2 separate regions of the Homo sapiens genome follow, and region 1 is linked to region 2. Evidence: fine-mapped expression QTL. A gene starts in region 2. The other region holds a variant in brackets. All regions are shown on one strand. Distances are from middle to middle.

Region 1 (8,421 bases), 71 kb after region 2:
TGGAGGGGGAACTGGATGCGGGGAGAGCCCCCTTAGGCTGTTTAAAAGAGATACAGTTTCTGAAAAGTTTAATAAGGCAGAAAACAATCCCGGATGCCAAATTTGCCTTCCAAAAGCTAACTATTCGGAATGCCTCCTGCCCCTACATGGAGGAGAAAATAGCGTTTCTCTAGCCAAAAAAGCTGTTTTCTAGAGAGGAGAAATTCTGTTTCTGCACGGGGATGGGTGCTGGAAGCTTAGTGACAAAAATGCAGAAACAAAACCCAGTTCTAATGCAAATCGGTGAGAGGAGAAAGAAAATCAGTGAGACGAGGATCAGCATGAAACAATAATCAAAGCTCAGGCTCATTTCTTTTCTCACTTTTGTTTTTGTTTTGTTTTTGAGACAGTCTCACTCTGTCGCCCAGTCTGGAGTGCAATGGTGTGATCACGGTCACTGCAACCTCTGCCTCCCGGGTTCAAGCGATTCTCCTGCCTCAGCCTCCCAAGTAGCTGGGATTACAGGTGAGTACCACCATGCCCAGCTAATTTTTGTATTTTTAGTAGAGATGGGGTTTCACCATGTTGGCCAGGCTCTTCTCGAACTACTGACCTCAGATGATCCACCCGCCTCGACCTCCCAAAGTCCTAGGATTATAGGCATGAGCAACCATGTGTGGCTTTTTTTTTTTTTTTTTTTTGAGACAGGGTCATGCACTGTTACCCAGGCTGGAGGACAGTGGTGCAATCACAGCTCACTGTAGCCTCAACTTCCTGAGCTCAAGTGATCCTCCCATCTCAGCCTCCTGAGTAGCTGGGACTACAGGTGGGCACCACCATGCCCAGCTAATTTTTTATTTTTTGTAGAGACGGGGTTTCGTTGTGTTGTCCAGGCTGTTTTCCAACTCCTGGGATCAAGTGATCCCCCAGGCCAGGCCTCCCAAAGTGCTGAGATTACAGGTGTGCACAGCTGTGCCTGGCCCAGGCTCATTTCTTACTCTGTTTCTCTCTTGCCTGTTAAAGAGAGCAGTTCAGCAGGGCTGCTATCACACTGGGTGAGTGACCTTGGAAAAGTCACTGTGTTTAACCTGAATCTCAGCCTTCGGTCTACAATAAGAAAATTAATACTATTCACTTCCACTGAGAAGTTAAAACTAAAATAAGGAATTTAAATCCCAGCACTTTGAGAGGCCGAGGTGAGAGGATCACTTAGACCCAGGAGGAGTTAGAGACCAGCCTGGGCAACACAGGGAGACCCCATCTCTACAAATAATATTTAAAAAGGAGGAATTTTAGTCAAATGGCTCAGCAAATGCTGGGTTCTTGGCAGACACTTGCCTAATAAATGTCTGTATGTTGGGGTGAGGGGTGGTGCTGTGCCAAAGACACCCTGGCCCTTCATATGTGTGGATTGGTTTGGTTCACAATGTTTCAAAATGTAGATGAGCTCCGAGGTTTAGCCAAAGGGACATTTTTGGCTGGAAAACATGAAAATGTAGAGCCAGCCTCCTAGTGTGGGCCTGGAAGCCCCCAGCAATGTTGGACTAAATAGTAAATTGGAAATTGATGAGCATGTCTGGAAGCCTTTCAGGGAGAATGGAGGCCGTTGACCCCCCACATAGCAAAAACCTCCCAGGAATCCTTGTCAGCAGTGTTTTGTCTCCTAATAACATGTTCAGTTATTTGAAATGACCCTGATCCTCTGTGAACACAGGCTTGTTTTCGGTGATGGACAGAAGGTGAGGAAGGTATTAGACAGGTTTGTCCAAACCCTGTGTGCCCTGGATGGGCTTTGGACTGCGGTGAATCTCATCACCATGAACCATGTTTCCCTGGTGGCTGCTGCTAATTGTTCTGTGGAATGACTGGGCTTTCCCGGTGCTCTGGCAGACAGAGGATGGACAGGCAGGCCACATATGGGGAAATAGGCAGAGATGGGGTAGAGGCCATGTAAGGAGAGGGAGAGACAGAGACAGACAGAGGAGAAATAGACAAAGAATGAAAGAGTCAGGCAGAGAGAGAGAGAGAAAGAGAGAGACGGAGAGGGAAGAGATAGAGGTTAAAAGTTTAAAAGTCTGAGAGCATGAAAGAAGCAGCAGAAGAAAAAAGAAAAGGGAGCGAGACAGAGAGAATTACCCACAAATTCTCTTTTCTACAGAAGAACAGAGCCAAGGAGAGGGTCAGAAATACAGACAACACCTGCAAAACAGAAACATGAAAACTCAGCTACATAAGGAGAAATAGAGACCGTGGCTCATGCCGGGAATCCCGGCACTTTGGGAGGCTGAGGTAGGCGGATCACTTGAGTCCAGGAGCTCGAGACCAGCCTGGGCAGCATAGTGAGATCCCATCTCTACAAAAACTTAGCTGGGCATGGTGGCATATGCCTGTAGTTCTAGCTACTTGGAAGTTGAGGTGGAAGGATCACTTGAGCATCCGGGAGGTCCAGGCTGTAGTGAGCCGTGATCGCACCACTGCACTCCAGCCTGGGTGACAGAGCGAGACCCTGTTTCAAAAAGAAAAAGAAAAAAATATAGGGAACAAGTGAATGAGCAGCGAGGGGACTTGCAAGGTAATATCTGGCACATGGAGGTGCTCTATCCCTAGGAAGCTGGCTGTCTTTTCTCTCCCAGAACATCGAGTCCCTCTCAGTGTCACCAGACCTCAAAGTCCCCCGGCTAGCCTGGTGCTCTTAGGGACACTACTGGGATATCACAAGTTAGACATCAGGGCTGCAAGGTGGGATTCCCTCAGGGGAGGCATGAACTGTGGAGAGGATCAAAGGGAGCTGGGGCCTTGGATTCACTGGCAGGACTGCCAGTAGGGCCCACAGGCCTCAATTCCTGGCGGAACCCCCAGGAAACATTCTGATGTGCAGATAGACATGCTCCAACTTCATGCAGGCGGCCTCCTCGCTCCCTCCCTCCCTCCTCGTCTTCCATGTTCCTTGAAATCACAGTTGAGGGTTGGTGAATGTTTAATTGAACTCAAGAGATAGCAGGGTCCTGCTTGAGTTTGTTTCCTTGTGTATACCATGACCATTGGAGTAAGCTGGAGTCTGCCTTACCAAGTTGTCCAAAGACCCGATGGCATGGTGTTAGTGCACTTTGGCGGAAGAACGTGCTCGTTTGGAGCGAGACATTCTTGGGAGGAGATCAGTTCCCTGAACCTTAGTCTCCTCCTGTGTGAAATGGGGGTGATATTATACAAATACGTCTCTGGCTGCATTGCTGGGAGCCGTAAATGTGATTGCTAATGCTGAAAGTGGAACCCGCGCCTGGCACATAGTAAGCGCTCGGCACTTGGCGGCTCTGGAGTGCTTAGAAGACAGAAGCCAGATCGCTATCCTGGACAGGGGGTGATATATGGTATCGAGCTCTGACTGAGAATTGAATTCAACCTCAGCCGGAGAATTAGAACATTGTGATTAGAAACAAGAAGAGGGAAGGGACAAAACAACCTGTCTTCAAGTGCATGATGACAGAGCACAGACTTTCCTGGCAGCCCGAGGGGCTGGGGAAGGACAGGGCAGATCATATTAATAACAATAAATTATATCTGCACTATGATTTATGGGTCCTGATGTGCTTCTCATTATGCTATCTTACAGTACCGTAGGAAGGGCTTATTATCCTTACTGCTGTGTGTTGCAGTGGTTTTAGTGTAATTGTTGCTGTTAGTGACCGTAGTGTTATCCATGCTATTATTGATGTTATTTCTCCTTGTTTCCAAATTGGGGAAACTGAGGCTCGGAGAGAGCTAGCGACTTAACCAAGGAAAAGGTTGGTGCTAGGATTCAAATCTAGGTTTTTTTTAGTCCTGGAGTTTTATTCTGGCTGCATTCTACGCTCTTACAATCCCCTTTCCACCCTGCCATTTTGCAACCTCTTTGGTCTGGGGAGTCTTGGTCCCTGTTTCCCACAATGGACAGTTTTCTCTCCTTGTTAGCCAGGGGTGATGGGGCTCAAGGGTCCTTTCTGTCTAACCACGAGGGCTTCCCTCTGCCTATAACCAACCAGCACTCCATCCCCAGGCCTATTCCTCCCTCATGGGAGCTCCAAGTTCAGTAAGAATCCCTGCAGGCAGCTACCCATTGCAAGGCAGGCAGGGGTGACACAGATTTGAACTTGAACTTTCAAGTCTTCCCCTTGGCTGGCCTCACTTTTGTCTTTGAACTCAGCAGCAGCCTGGCTGGTGGTTTACCCCACTTGTTCTCCTTCACTGCCTTCTCCTTTCCTTCTCTTCTCCCAAAGCCTGCTCAGGACTGAGTTGGTTAGGGACCAGGTTCATTTAGCATTTGCAGGATGAGCTATTTCAAGAATGTGCAGATTCAGTCTTGGAAATGGCAGAGGAGAAGCCTGGCTTGGCTTCTGAGCAGGAGAACAAATGAACCCCTGACCCCCCGCCCTTTCCCCATCCTGCGATTTCCTTTGTCTCAATCCAAAATCCCCCTTTACATGATCCTGGAGGCTTCCTAATAAAATAGAACTGTAACTTTATCTAAGACGAGTGCAGCACATGTAGAATGGATAAGGTGTAATTAATAACAGAAAATAATGCTTCCCCCTCCTGACCTTTCACCCTCATATAAGTGTCTTAAGTTTTATGACAGCTAAGCACAAAATTAGTGTGTGCATGCATGCGTGCATGTGTGTGTGTGTGCGTGTACTTCAGTGTGTGCGTTTGAGCTGAACCTATGTGGGGCCAATACGTCTGTCTAGTGAGCATTCACCTCACCCTGGCTGGAACTGGTTTACGTTTCTGGGTAGACTGGCCTCTCGCTGAACCCGGGAATTGCCTGAAACTGATCTGATTTCTTGAAGTGAGGATTCTGTCTGCATCACAAAATACCCCATGTCTACTTGTATGCAAATGTTTGGACAATGCAGAAAGCATGTATATATAAAAATACAAGGATGGCACGTGAGCATGAGCA[TGCACACACAC/T]GCACACACACACTCACATACTCACACTCACACACACACTATCCTTTGGGTTGTCTGTGATATTTTAGAACCCCAGGGGATGCTGGGGCAGGGCTATTGATACTTATTTGTGTACCTAACAGTGGGCAGGAAAGCAAGATGAGCAGTTCATTGGTTTTGATGCCGGAAATTCTTTGGACATACAAAGATCTCACGATGGAAAATACTCTCTTCAGCAATTGCAGTGCTCCTAATCCCCAGCATGGCATCTTCCTTGCTATTTATCTAGGGGCCAGCGAAAGACACGCGCTCGACTTAGCAAGATAGGGGCTAGACAAACCACGGTGAGGAAAACGGCACCTACAAGTCTTCCCAGACAGCTGTCTGCAGTTGAAATTGAAGTGAGTTCGAACCGATACTGTTTATCTTAATGATTCCACGGCTATGTTCGTTTTAAGTAATATTATCTTTCTTTAAAAGGTCACTGGGCTGGCCCAAGCTATTGGTTTCTCATGATTCATTACGTTTGATGTTCAACTTTTCTCGAAGTCCGCAACACCAACCTCTGGGTTAATGGAAGCCACACCAGCCATGAAGCCAGTAGCTTTGAATCCTCCCTGGATGGGGAGGCCTGGGCCAGGTGGAGTGAGCTGCTTGCTTTTGATCAGCAGTGCTGATGTGAACCAGAGGTCACGCATGTTTGGGGCCTGTGTGTTAGCTCTACCAGACAGCAGCAACTGGGCCTCGACACTCCCTCCCACCCCAAGCCCCTCGAGTTTCGTTTTCCATGGTTGTCCCTCTGTGGGCCGACTTTTTCAAGACCCCTAGGGCACCAGAAGGACTTTTGCTGGGGGGAGATCCAGAGCCCTAAATCACTGGAGAAGTCCCCTTTGTCCACTCCAGGGGTCTTCCTCTTTCCATCCTTGGCTGTTCCAGACACAGATACACCAGTTCCCGCTCCCTCAGGGAATTTCTGCTCACCAGTGACAGGTGGATTTGCAGGGAGATCTCTTCCTCGCAGTAGAGTCTTTGGGTTGTTGAGTTCTTTTATGGGCATGCTTGAACTCTGGAGAGCCCCCAGACTGACAGCCACCTCTGTCTGCTAAATCGATTGTAAATTTTCCTGGCATTATGTCATCCTGTCATCCTTTTACAGATGCTTTTGCCTGCCATATTTTTATGACTCTTCTTCCAAGAGGGGCTGCATGGAGGGTGGTGGGTCAGCGTTATTTATCTGGAAGGAGAAGAGCAGGAGAATTTCTTATCACTGGTATCAGAAAGTGGGATTTCCCACTTATCACCCCCTCTTTGGCTTTGAAGTTTAAAGGCAACACCAACTGGCTGGATCAAGTAGTTTAGGGAGTTCCTTAGGCTGCCATCTTTATAAAATTGACAATGACCAGAAAATGGGGGACTCCCACCCTCCCCTAATTTCATATCCTCCTAGATACTTAAAATCACAGTAGACCAGCCCTGGAGTTTGTTTCCAGGACAAGAAGATCTTGACTGGATTAACGTATTTCCCAATGGAGGCTCTGAGGCTTTGGCAAACATAATAAGAGGAGCAGCTCTTAAACAACAACACTTGAAAAATTAAACAAGTAATATATATTCATTATAGGAGAAGTAGAAAAGGCAGATAAGGAAAAAGAAGAAAATGAAAATCACCTGTAATCCCATTACATAGGGCTAACCATTCATAGTTTACCATATATCTTTCTAGTCTTCTTCTGTGTATGGTATATGCATTTTAAATGAAAATAAGATTGTATCGCATATACTTTTTTGCATTTATTTACTTATTTATTTATTAAGGAGACAAGAGCTGACTATGTTGCCCAGGCTGGTCTCGAAATCCTGGGCTCAAGCGATCCACCCACTTTGGCCTTCCAAAGTGCTGGGATTACAGGTGTGAGCCGCGAAGTCCAGCTTGCTTTTTTGTTCTTTTAGATGGGATCTCACTCTGTCACCCAGGCTGGAGTGCAGTGGTGTGATCATACCTCACTGTAACCTTGAGCTCCTGGGCGCAAGTGATCTTCCCACCTTGGCCTCCTGACTACAGGTGTGCACCACTATGGGACTACAGGTGTGCATATCCATGCCTGGCTAATTAATTTTTTTTTTTTTTTGGTAGAGATGGGGTCTTGCTCACTGTTGCCCAGGCTGGTCTTGAACTCTTGAGCCCAAGAGATCCTCCCACCTCAACCTCCCAAAGTGCTGGGATTACAAGTATGAGCCACTGTACCAGGCACATATCACATATACTGTCAATGGTTCTATTTATCAGGTAAATCATATACATATACATATATAATATTATAATATATTCTACACATAGTATATTTATCTATCTATTTATATGTATATTTTGAGATGGAGTCTCTCACTCTTGTCTAGGCTAGAGTGCAGTGGTGTGATCTCAGCTCACTGCAACCTCTGCCTCCCAAGTTCAAGTGATTCTCCTGCATCAGCCTCCTGAGTAGCTGGGACTTAACAGGTGCATGCCACCATGCTCCATTTATTTTTGTATTTTTGGTTGAGACAAGGTTTCGCCATGTTGGCCAGACTGGTCTCGAACTCCTGACCTCAAGTGATCCACCCACCTTGGACTCCCAAAGTGCTGGGATTACAGGCATGGGCCACCACGCCCAGCCTCTAATATATTTAAATAATACAGAAATAACAAGAACAATAAAAACCCAAATTGTACCCACTATTGACCTCCTAGTGAACACCTTTTTTTTTTTTTTTTTTTTTTGAGACGGAGTCTCGCTCTGCTGCCCAGGCTGGAGTGCAGTGGCGCAATCTTGGCTCACTGCAAGCTCCACCTCCCGGGTTCACGCCATTCTCCTGGATCAGCCTCCCGAGTAGCTGGGACTACAGGCACCTGTCATCACGCCCGGCCAATTTTTTGTATTTTTAGTAGAGATGAGGTTTCACCATGTTAGTCAGGGTGGTCTCGATCTCCTGACCTCGTGCTCTGCCAGCCTCGGCCTCCCAAAGTGTAGGGATTACAGGCATGAGCCACCGCACCCAGCCCCAGTGAACACCTTTCTAGATCTCTCTTTTCAGATTGTTTGCTAACCTGCTTTTACAAAGCTTAGCAATATAGAATGTGCTTCTCCATGCCAATAAATCTGTCTCTACACCAGGAGCTCAGTTGTGTTCCACTGTCAGGAGGCATCATGGGCCAGGCTCAGTGGCTCATGCCTATAGGCCCAGCAATTAATTTGGGAGGCCAAAGTGGGTAAATTGCTTGAGCCCAGGAATTCAAGACCAGCCTGGACAACATGGTCAAGCTTCGTCTCTATAAAGAATTTAAAAGTTAGCTGGGTGTGGTGGTGTGCTCCTGTAGTTCCAGCTACTTGGGAGGCCGAGGCAGGAAGATCCCTTGAGCCCAGGAGGTCAAGGCTGCAGTGAGCCACGATCGTGCCACTGCACTGCAGCCTAGGCACAAAGTGAGACCCTGCCTCAAAAAAAATAAAATTAAATTGAATTGAAATTTTATGACACACCA
Region 2 (8,421 bases):
TCCGAAGTCCCCAGCTCTGTCTGATGGTATTTGGAAGACAGGATTGCAAAAATTCCCAAGTATTTTCTCAATGGCATGGTTCTTTCTGGGACCTGCCTAGGATGAACTTAAATTAATTAGGAATTAATAGGCATCCCTGTATAATCTATTATCCCTGATGCTTCTCTTCCAGAGATAAGTATGGTGTAGCCTAGTTAATTTCCTTAAAGGTAAGGAGGTAGGAAAAGTACTTGTCCTGGGTATACTGATAGCGGCAAGCATGTAGCAGTGGGGAAAGTGAATGATTTCCACCCGCTCTTAGGATAAGTGCCTGCATCTCACTTCTAACACTTCAGAGTTGGATCCTAAAAAAAGGGATTTTTCTAAACTATCTAATAAATAATTGTTTCAACTCACCTTTTTTCTCTTCGGCCATTTCCAGTGTCCCGGAAACCTTTTGCAAAAGGGTTGTTGTCTATTTTTAACTGGGTTATCTATTGGAAGAGACACAAGCAAGACAGAGACATTGTTCTCATTTTCTAGAATGTTTTGAGGGTGTTTTTCCCAACTCAACAAGTCTAGAGATGTGACTGCCAACAGAAGTCATATAGATATGCCAGGGAAAGGAGATAATAAGGAAACTGTGGCAGGGCTTGTATCTCCTATATGAGGCCAAACCAGGGATTTGGGGATGAAATTATTCAAAGAAATTCTTTTCTTTGGGCAGCCAACAGTTTGGGTTTAGACATGGAAGTGTTGTCAAAGTCATCAAGAGGGAAAACCTGTAGATCTTAAAATTATGCTTTCATTTTGATTTTTATACAGTGCAATTAATCATAAATTATAGCATACTCCCTTCACACACACACACACACACACACACACACACACACACTCCTTTTCCATGAATCCAATAAATGATTTATGGGGTTTCACTACCCTTGTGCGGGAGTGAGTGCGGGAGTGAGTTTAATTTTTTTTTTCTTTGCCTGGGGGGTGGTTTGAGGAAATTACAATATTGACAGTTACAGTACTGAATGACCACTGGAAACATCTGTTTTCATTTATATGCTCTGCCATGGCCATTAGGTGGAGAAGGCCCATGGCCTTTTTGTCTGATCAAAAATGCTACATTTTATTATTACATTAACAACTTCATTTCACAGGATTCTGGGTCTAGAGGGCACATGCATTTTGCACTTTGAGAAAAATGCTATAGTGTGTAATCTTTCAAATCCCTTCCCCTTGGTGGGAAGAAGAAGTTATATACACAGAGTTACTCAGAGGTGGAAAGGGGGACCCTTGGTTGGATTCATGTTCTTGGAATAAATTGCTCTATTGAAGACTTCAGGTTTCACAGGGAGAGAAGATCATGTTTTGGTATTCACACTAAAGAAATTTAGCTGGAACATCCCCATCATGAAGTCCACAGAGGACCCAAGGACAGTGACAATGACAGTGAGTTCAAAATGAAGTGTGTTGTCAGGTAAAATGGACTCTCTTTGAAGTCCAGGATTGCAGAGCAGGGGTCTTCAGTCCCTCCTCCCACCCCATAACTGCTAACAGCCAATCTGGGAACTGGTGAATCAGCAGTAAGGGTCACTTTTTCTGTGCCCATGACCTTCAGGCCACCATAGCTCTAGATATCAGGTGCTTTCCCTTTTGGGGATCCTTCTAACCTCCAGATTCAGGCCTGGGGGAGGGGGGGAATTCAAATGAAGTGGTGACTTTGGCCACCCCAACTCAAAAGCCTCAGACAACTCGATTAATATGACCCTGTGATCAGGGTAGGTTTTTCCAACCACACGCATGCATGCACACACATGCACACACACACACACATCATAACACAGCAGCATAAAAGGTAATAAAAACCAGACCAGCTACTCAGGATTTCTGGCTAGGGGAGAAAAGCTGGTCTCTACTAGGATTCTCCTCCCAGGATCCCAAATGGCTTTTGCCTTAAATTTTTAGCTGGTTCCTTTTGAATGTGACTTCTTGATCCTTCTTCCCCAAGGGGAAGAAGATGAACCTTAAAACAGACAGGACAAAGCCCAAGAGGGGGGGAGGAGTGGGTGGCATCAATGACAGCAGTTCTAGGAGTTTCTCTGTGGCAAAATTAGTATGGCGTTTTTTTGCTCAGCATTGTTCCTACCTAGTCAAGGTGTTTTTCTGTCTCCTCGAGGTGTCATTGTCCTTTCCCCCCAAATGCTCCACAAATCACAAAAGACAACTCAAGACTCTCGTCTCCACTCTCTTGTAACTTTCTCATCCTGACTTAAAGCAGCTTTTAAGGGGAAGGCAAAATATCACCATTAAAAAGGAAAGCCCCTTGAGTTTACCTTATCATTCTGGTATGCAGTCACAGCGATGAATTCAGTTTCGGGGAACAAGTATGTCCGAAATGTACTATAAGGGAGTTTCAAGATGTCATTGGCTCTTACAATGTGGAACCGGGGCTGGTATTTGTGCATGGAGTTCAATATAGTCTGCAGGGGCAGGGAAGAGGAGACATACATAAAACAAGGATTTAGCAGAACAAACGGGATCTTAGGACCCCTGCCAGGCTGAAATCTTCCCCACCGCAGGGTACCACGCTTGTACCGAGCCCACCTCCTTGGAGTACCCCCTGGGTACGTTTCGCTCCACAGATGTTATCTTCTGGAGAATCCAAATTGCTCCTCAGTTGCCAAAGGGCCCCCCCCACCCTCACCATCTAAGGATCATTCATACCTTGAACCCTAGCCTACCTGAGTACCAAAACTATAATTCCCCTGCCACGTAGCGTGATCACTTGGGAAGGCCAAAGTCTTAAAAGATAGAGAAAAACATGCATTTTAATTTACAAAATGATTCAGTACTTTAAGCGCCCACTAATTGACGAGCCCAATCCACTTAAAGCCCTGAAAGGCTGAACTCTAGAGAGGAATATTTATGCCTTAATCAAATCAAGGGCTTCAAATGCAATTCCTGCCCGCTGAAGATATTTCCGCGCCATTCGCGTCTTCCTGGGCCTAATCTTTCTGCTTACTCCTTGCTTATCACGCTGTTTATTTTATTGAAATGTTGGGGAGGGGTAGGAAAAGGCGCAAAAGGTCCTTTGCCTGATATCTACAAGCAATGAAAGTTTTCTAAGTTTCTAAGCACTGTCACTGAATCCATATATACACTCCCAACACACAAACCATTTTTTTCTGAAGATCTAAGCCTCATTTAGGGTAAGCCGGACTCCCACCTAAGCCCAATTCTTTTTTTAGTAAAAGAACGAGTTTTTAAAAATGTATTCACACCATTTAACCAACAGAGTCAAGGCTCCGAAACGTAAACTCTCCTGAGAAAATAATATCACTGGTTTCAAAACAGAAGTATGATATTTTAAAACAAAACAAATCCTTTAGGAATACATAGCCTTGAAATTGATTTTAGCTCTTAAAAAATGGTTTTTAACTTCACTCTCAGGTCAGGAATCTACCAAAGAGCTGGAATTGCTATAGAACACAAGCCGGTAAGTTTTCTTGCCCCATTTCTTTTAGAACGCCAGGCCTTCCATTATTTGGAGAGAAACACCCCGAATCCTTTTTCCAGACGAGGACAAGTTTGCTATGCTTAGGGAGAAGCAAAGGAGAAGTCTGGGCTGAAACTCATGAAATGGGAAGCACTGCCTTTGACTGAGTGAAGGAGGAGAAAATTTTACTGAAGAGAGCAATGAAACTTACAAATCCATGTTTGTCTGAAATGTTGTTGGTGAGTTTCAGTTTGTGGAAAGTGACGACTTTGGACATCCACTGTTCCCCAGTAGCGGGGCTGTCCGGGTGAATGTACATCCTCTTTGGCATTTCGGGGTCGGCCTTACCAGCCACCATCCACCGAGAATTGTGAAATTTATAACGACAGTCATCAGCAGCTATAATGTCCATCAATAAAATGTATTTGGCTTTTTTATCCAGCCCAGAACATCTCACTTTAAATGGAGGAAACATTCGCCTATAAAACGAAAGAATAGAAAAGAAAAAGAAAGATAAACCACCCGTAATCTTGGGTTTGATTTCCTATGTATCACATAATATTGAAACCAAGTCTAAGACTTTATATTGTGACTGATAAGCTTACATGTTTCAGAGTGAGGCAACTGGTTGCAAAATCGTTTTCTTCCACAACTAACGTATTAAATATTCTCAGTTTCGCCATATTTAGACGTCCCAAGGTTCAAAACAAATGCATTGTGGCACTGCAATTCTCTACATTGTCTAACAATTTCTTCAATATTTTTTTTGTCCTTGCTTGACTTTACAGATTGCCCTCCTGAGAGCAAATTCTTGCCCATGTCTTTTTCTGTGGGTATCTAGATCTAAACAGGTTGGGGTAAGATTTTTGTAAAGCGCGGTCAGTTAAGACTAGAATTTTCCACCACCCATTGATGAGAAAATGTTAAACTTATCAAGGAAATGAACGTCAAGTTGCACCCCTCCCTGCTGCAGAATAGCAATCCCGCTGTGGGCGAAGTGAAACTGGACTTCAGTGAGTTCCCAGAACGAATTTTGCAGACTTCGGTGCACTCCTGGGCCTGATAACCGATCTGCCCGTGGAGCTGCTAACACATTCCCCCACTTCTTAGGCCAGTCCAAAACCGCAAGACTGTGCCACCACATTGCTGTTAATTTCACAGAAGGGTTGGCATTCTGTAGTCTTGACTTAAAAGGAAGCAAGGAAGCACTTTGCTGGAAAACTGACTAAATGTCTTGTGAGTTTGAGGAGGATTTTATGCCAAACTTTGGCCTCATTTAGCTTGGAAGGAGACAGAACGCTTAAGATATCATGAAGGGGATTTTATTTTTGTATCAACTTTATGCCTTTACAGGCTTCAATGCTATTACAAAAAAAAAATCAGTGATTTTAAATGACTATTACAGGATCTTCTCTTCCAGGCAGGTTTTGGTCAGGCAAGGACCTTTAAACATTATGTAAAATATGGTTGATAATATTCACACATTAAAAAAAAGGTGTGTGTCTCCTCACTGGCTCCTTAAGTCTGCAAACATAATCTTAAATTATGCAAAATTGCCTGCTGAACTCGCCCTTGGGTTACAGACACGTGAAGTAGTGTGGGCAAACAAACCAAAATGCCCTTCGATTTCTCTCTGACCAGGGCAGCAGCAGGCCCCTTTAGACCCAGAGGCTAGACTGGAGGGCAGAAAGGGCCGGGGAATGGTGTCAGGCCTCCCAATACCCACACAAAAGGAAAGGGCTTTAAGTTTTTCTCTCTGAGAACAAAATAAAACAGACAACACAACATCAACAAAGAAATAAGGATGTTCCAGGAGGGTTTGAAGAGTGAGTTTCTTGCAGTAGAGTGCCTTTTTTTTTTTTCTTTCCTGCTCCCTGCAGGGATGTCTGTGCTCCACTGAAAAATTCTGTCTGTTCGGGAGGGAACCCAGGATGCAGACCAAATGCAAGACCCATGCAGATGCCCAGGTAAGCTGAAATTTCCTGCCACCGGGGCAGGGCCTGGAAGTCTGTGCATACATTTCTAGGGGAACTAACTTTTCGTCCAAGCCGTAATAACCGACCAACCGACTGTTCTGGGAGCAGAGAAATAAAGGGAGGAAAAAACTCTCCAACAGCTTAGGGGAGGAGGCCCCCACTGCTTACCTTCCCGACTTGGTAATGACCATCTCGGTGCCCCGCTTGTGAAACTGATCCCAAAGTTCTTTAGCCTCCAGGTGCACCTTGGGGTCGTCCTCCACCTCTTCTTCGGGCTCCATGGTCTTCAAAGGCCTCAGATGCGCCTGGGGCCCCAGGGAGGAGAACGGGATGCCGGTCTCGGCCGCCCCCACCAATTGATCCATGATCGGCTTGGCCAGGGCGCCCGGCAGCGAGAGCGCCGCCGCGCCGTTGGGAGGCAGCGTCAGCGCGGGGAAGAACGGCGGCTGGTGACCCAGCACCGCGCTCATGGCGAAGTCCGGCGCCCGGTGAGGTAGGAACGGATGGTAGGCCATGCTTGTCCCAGGAATGACCGGATCTCTCATGGAGAGGCTCATCCACTCCAGGCGGGGCGCTGGGCTCCAGCCGGGGACAAGTCCGCAGCTGCTGTGTTTTGTTGTTTTTTTGTTGTTGTTTAACAGCAGCACATAATTCAAAAGGGGGGAAAAAGCAAAACAAAAAAGAAAGAAAAAAGAAAAGGAGGCAGAAATCACAACTAATGCACTTCAAAGGGAGGAGGGGAAGTGTCTTTTGGAGAATGGGAGGCCGCTTTTAAAGAGGGCAAGGCGAAAAATCAGCAAACATAGTCGCGCGGGTGACCGTCCTTGTGCCTTGCGTTTTTAAAAAGCCGCTCCTGAACGTCGGTTTCAGAAGCGAGAGGAGCGAGCAGGGTCTCGACTCGCGCCCGAGCCCTGCCGCTGAGCTCGAAATAGACACTCCAGCCCTGCGTCCCAGGAATCTCTCTCCAGCCCCTAGGTCTTTTGTTGCAAATGTGAAAGGTTCTCCTAGAAGACTTTTTACCTTTCTTTTTCTTCTTCCCCCGCCCCCTATCTGTCTTCCTCTCCCTCTTTCTCGCTGGTGGCGTCTGCAGCTGTGCTAGACCCGGCTTTAACAGGGAGCGAGAGAGCGGAAAAAGTCTCTCTCCTTTAAAAAAAAAAAAATCTGATTTAAACCCCCTTCTACCAGCGCTATCAAAACTTGAATTGCAAACTGGCTTCCGTTCGCCGCCCTCCTCCTCCTTCCTCTGCTCCGAGCCTCCGGAGGGTGTCTCGGTTTCAATCCAAATCTTGCTGGGCTCTTCTCCCGTGCCTCTCTCTCTTCCTTGTCCTAAAACGTGAGCGAATTCGCTTCCTAAATCTGTGTCCAGGCGCGCAGGGCAGGGAGGATTTAGAGGGGGAAAAAATGGAACAGAGGGAAAGAGAGGGAGGGGAGAGAGAGAGAGAGAGAGAGAGACGGAGTCGGAGAGGGAGGGAGCGAGAGAAAGCGAGAGCTCCTCGCCACCCTCCGCCGCCTCTAGAATTCACCGGGCGTCTGCTCGGCGGCTCTAGAAGGTCGGGCTGCGCTGTGGGCTGCGGGGAGCCGGAGGCCTCTTGATTGGCTCTTTGACGCTTTCGGACCAATTGTGTTGCTGCATAGGCGTGGTTTTCACAGGTCGAGTGCTGGGGGATAGAGCTGAGTTATAAAAAGAAGGTGTCGGAAACTGTAACGTCGCAGCGCCGCATCGGTACTACTGCCTGTCCTGTGAATATGTCAACATGATCAGAGGGCGGGCGGGAGCCACTGGGGAGCGCGCGCGCACAGAGTCGCCTCTAGGTGGCTTATCGAGAGATCGCTGCAGCCCCTGAGCTCGCTCGCTCGCTCTGGTTCAGCCCACGTCTGAAATGCCTCAGTCATCCAGCCGGGGATCGAGGGAGGAGGCAGGGCCAAGGAGGAAGGGGGAGGGAGAGAGGGAGGGAGCCAGCGAGCAGGCGAGCCGGGCGGGGAAGGCGGAGAGCGCGCCCGGGCGCCGGGCAGGGGCGCTCGCCTCTCTTGCACTCCGCTCGCCTCTCCGACCGCCGCGGCCGGTTCTCTCTCCAGCTCTCCTTCTTCTCCCCGCCCCGGGCGAGCCGGGCGGGTGGCCGAGCCTCCCCGCGAGCTGCCATCCGGCCACTCGGTTCTACAAAAGCCGGCGGCAGCCGAGAAGCGAGCGCCGAGACTCCAGGCTTGCGTGCTCTCCAGCCCCACGTGGAGCCAAGCTCCGCCCGGCCGCCGCTGAAGGGCTCCCGAGCTCGGGTGTCTCGGTGCTGGTCTCCCCTGCGTCTGGGCTGGGGGAGCACAAGGATGCGGCCATATCTCAGCACACGCATGTGTGGGCTTCCTCTCCACTGCGCCCCACCCGCAGCCATGTGCGGGTACCCAAACACCCCCGGTGTATCTGTACTCGAACACGCGCCAACACACTGGGACTGAAACACACACCGAAAAACACGTACACACAAACACGTACACAGCCTGCGCGGCTGGCCCTGCCTGAGCTCCTGGGGAAGATGGATTTGGGATTTTTATGAAATGCATTTACCAGCCCTTTTGGATCTCGTCTTTCATTTGCATGCGGGCCCCCATATTCCACCTGGATGTGGGTGTGGGTGTAGAGAAGAGAATGGAGGATCTGGACAAAGCGAGCACAGCGAGAGACTGGGTTCTGAGCCTGTCCCCTCCAAGCCGCTGCCCTCACCTCGAGGCCCGGCTGGGTGCACAGCACAGGGTAAGGGGTGGGCGATTGGGTTGGGGGAGGCGCGCCAGCCTGGTATCTTCTCTAGGCATCGCACTTATCTCTCGGTGCCTCAGTTCTTTCTCCACCCCGGGGACTTAATCTGGCCAGAAGTCGGGGAGGGAGGGTGAATTTGTAAAACAAACCGTGAAACGCCCCCACCTCAGAGGCGAGTTGACTGTTTTTAGTACGGGTAGGGTGGGGGCCTCCTC

The links. PIP is the estimated chance that this variant, and not a neighbour inherited with it, causes the effect.
Region 1: its variant is the best candidate, but not a certain one, in a credible set for the expression of TBX3-AS1 in testis (GTEx, PIP 0.55).

The regions. Positions count from the first base shown.
Region 1 is chr12:114,747,707-114,756,127 of GRCh38, forward strand. All of the region lies in intron 1 of TBX3-AS1 (TBX3 antisense RNA 1), which reads left to right. Among named protein-coding and RNA genes, the nearest start is that of TBX3, 68 kb to the left of the region's middle. The variant TGCACACACAC/T (reference allele first, on the strand shown) is at 4,916.
Region 2 is chr12:114,677,184-114,685,604 of GRCh38, forward strand. TBX3-AS1 (TBX3 antisense RNA 1) reads left to right here and starts at 5,109. Exons shown (of 2, transcript NR_187552.1): 1 at 5,109-5,451. It overlaps TBX3 (T-box transcription factor 3), which reads right to left and starts at 6,992. Exons shown (of 7, transcript NM_005996.4): 1 at 5,629-6,992; 2 at 3,696-3,963; 3 at 2,322-2,468; 4 at 397-473. The coding sequence starts at 6,017. RefSeq lists a promoter at 6,994-7,503.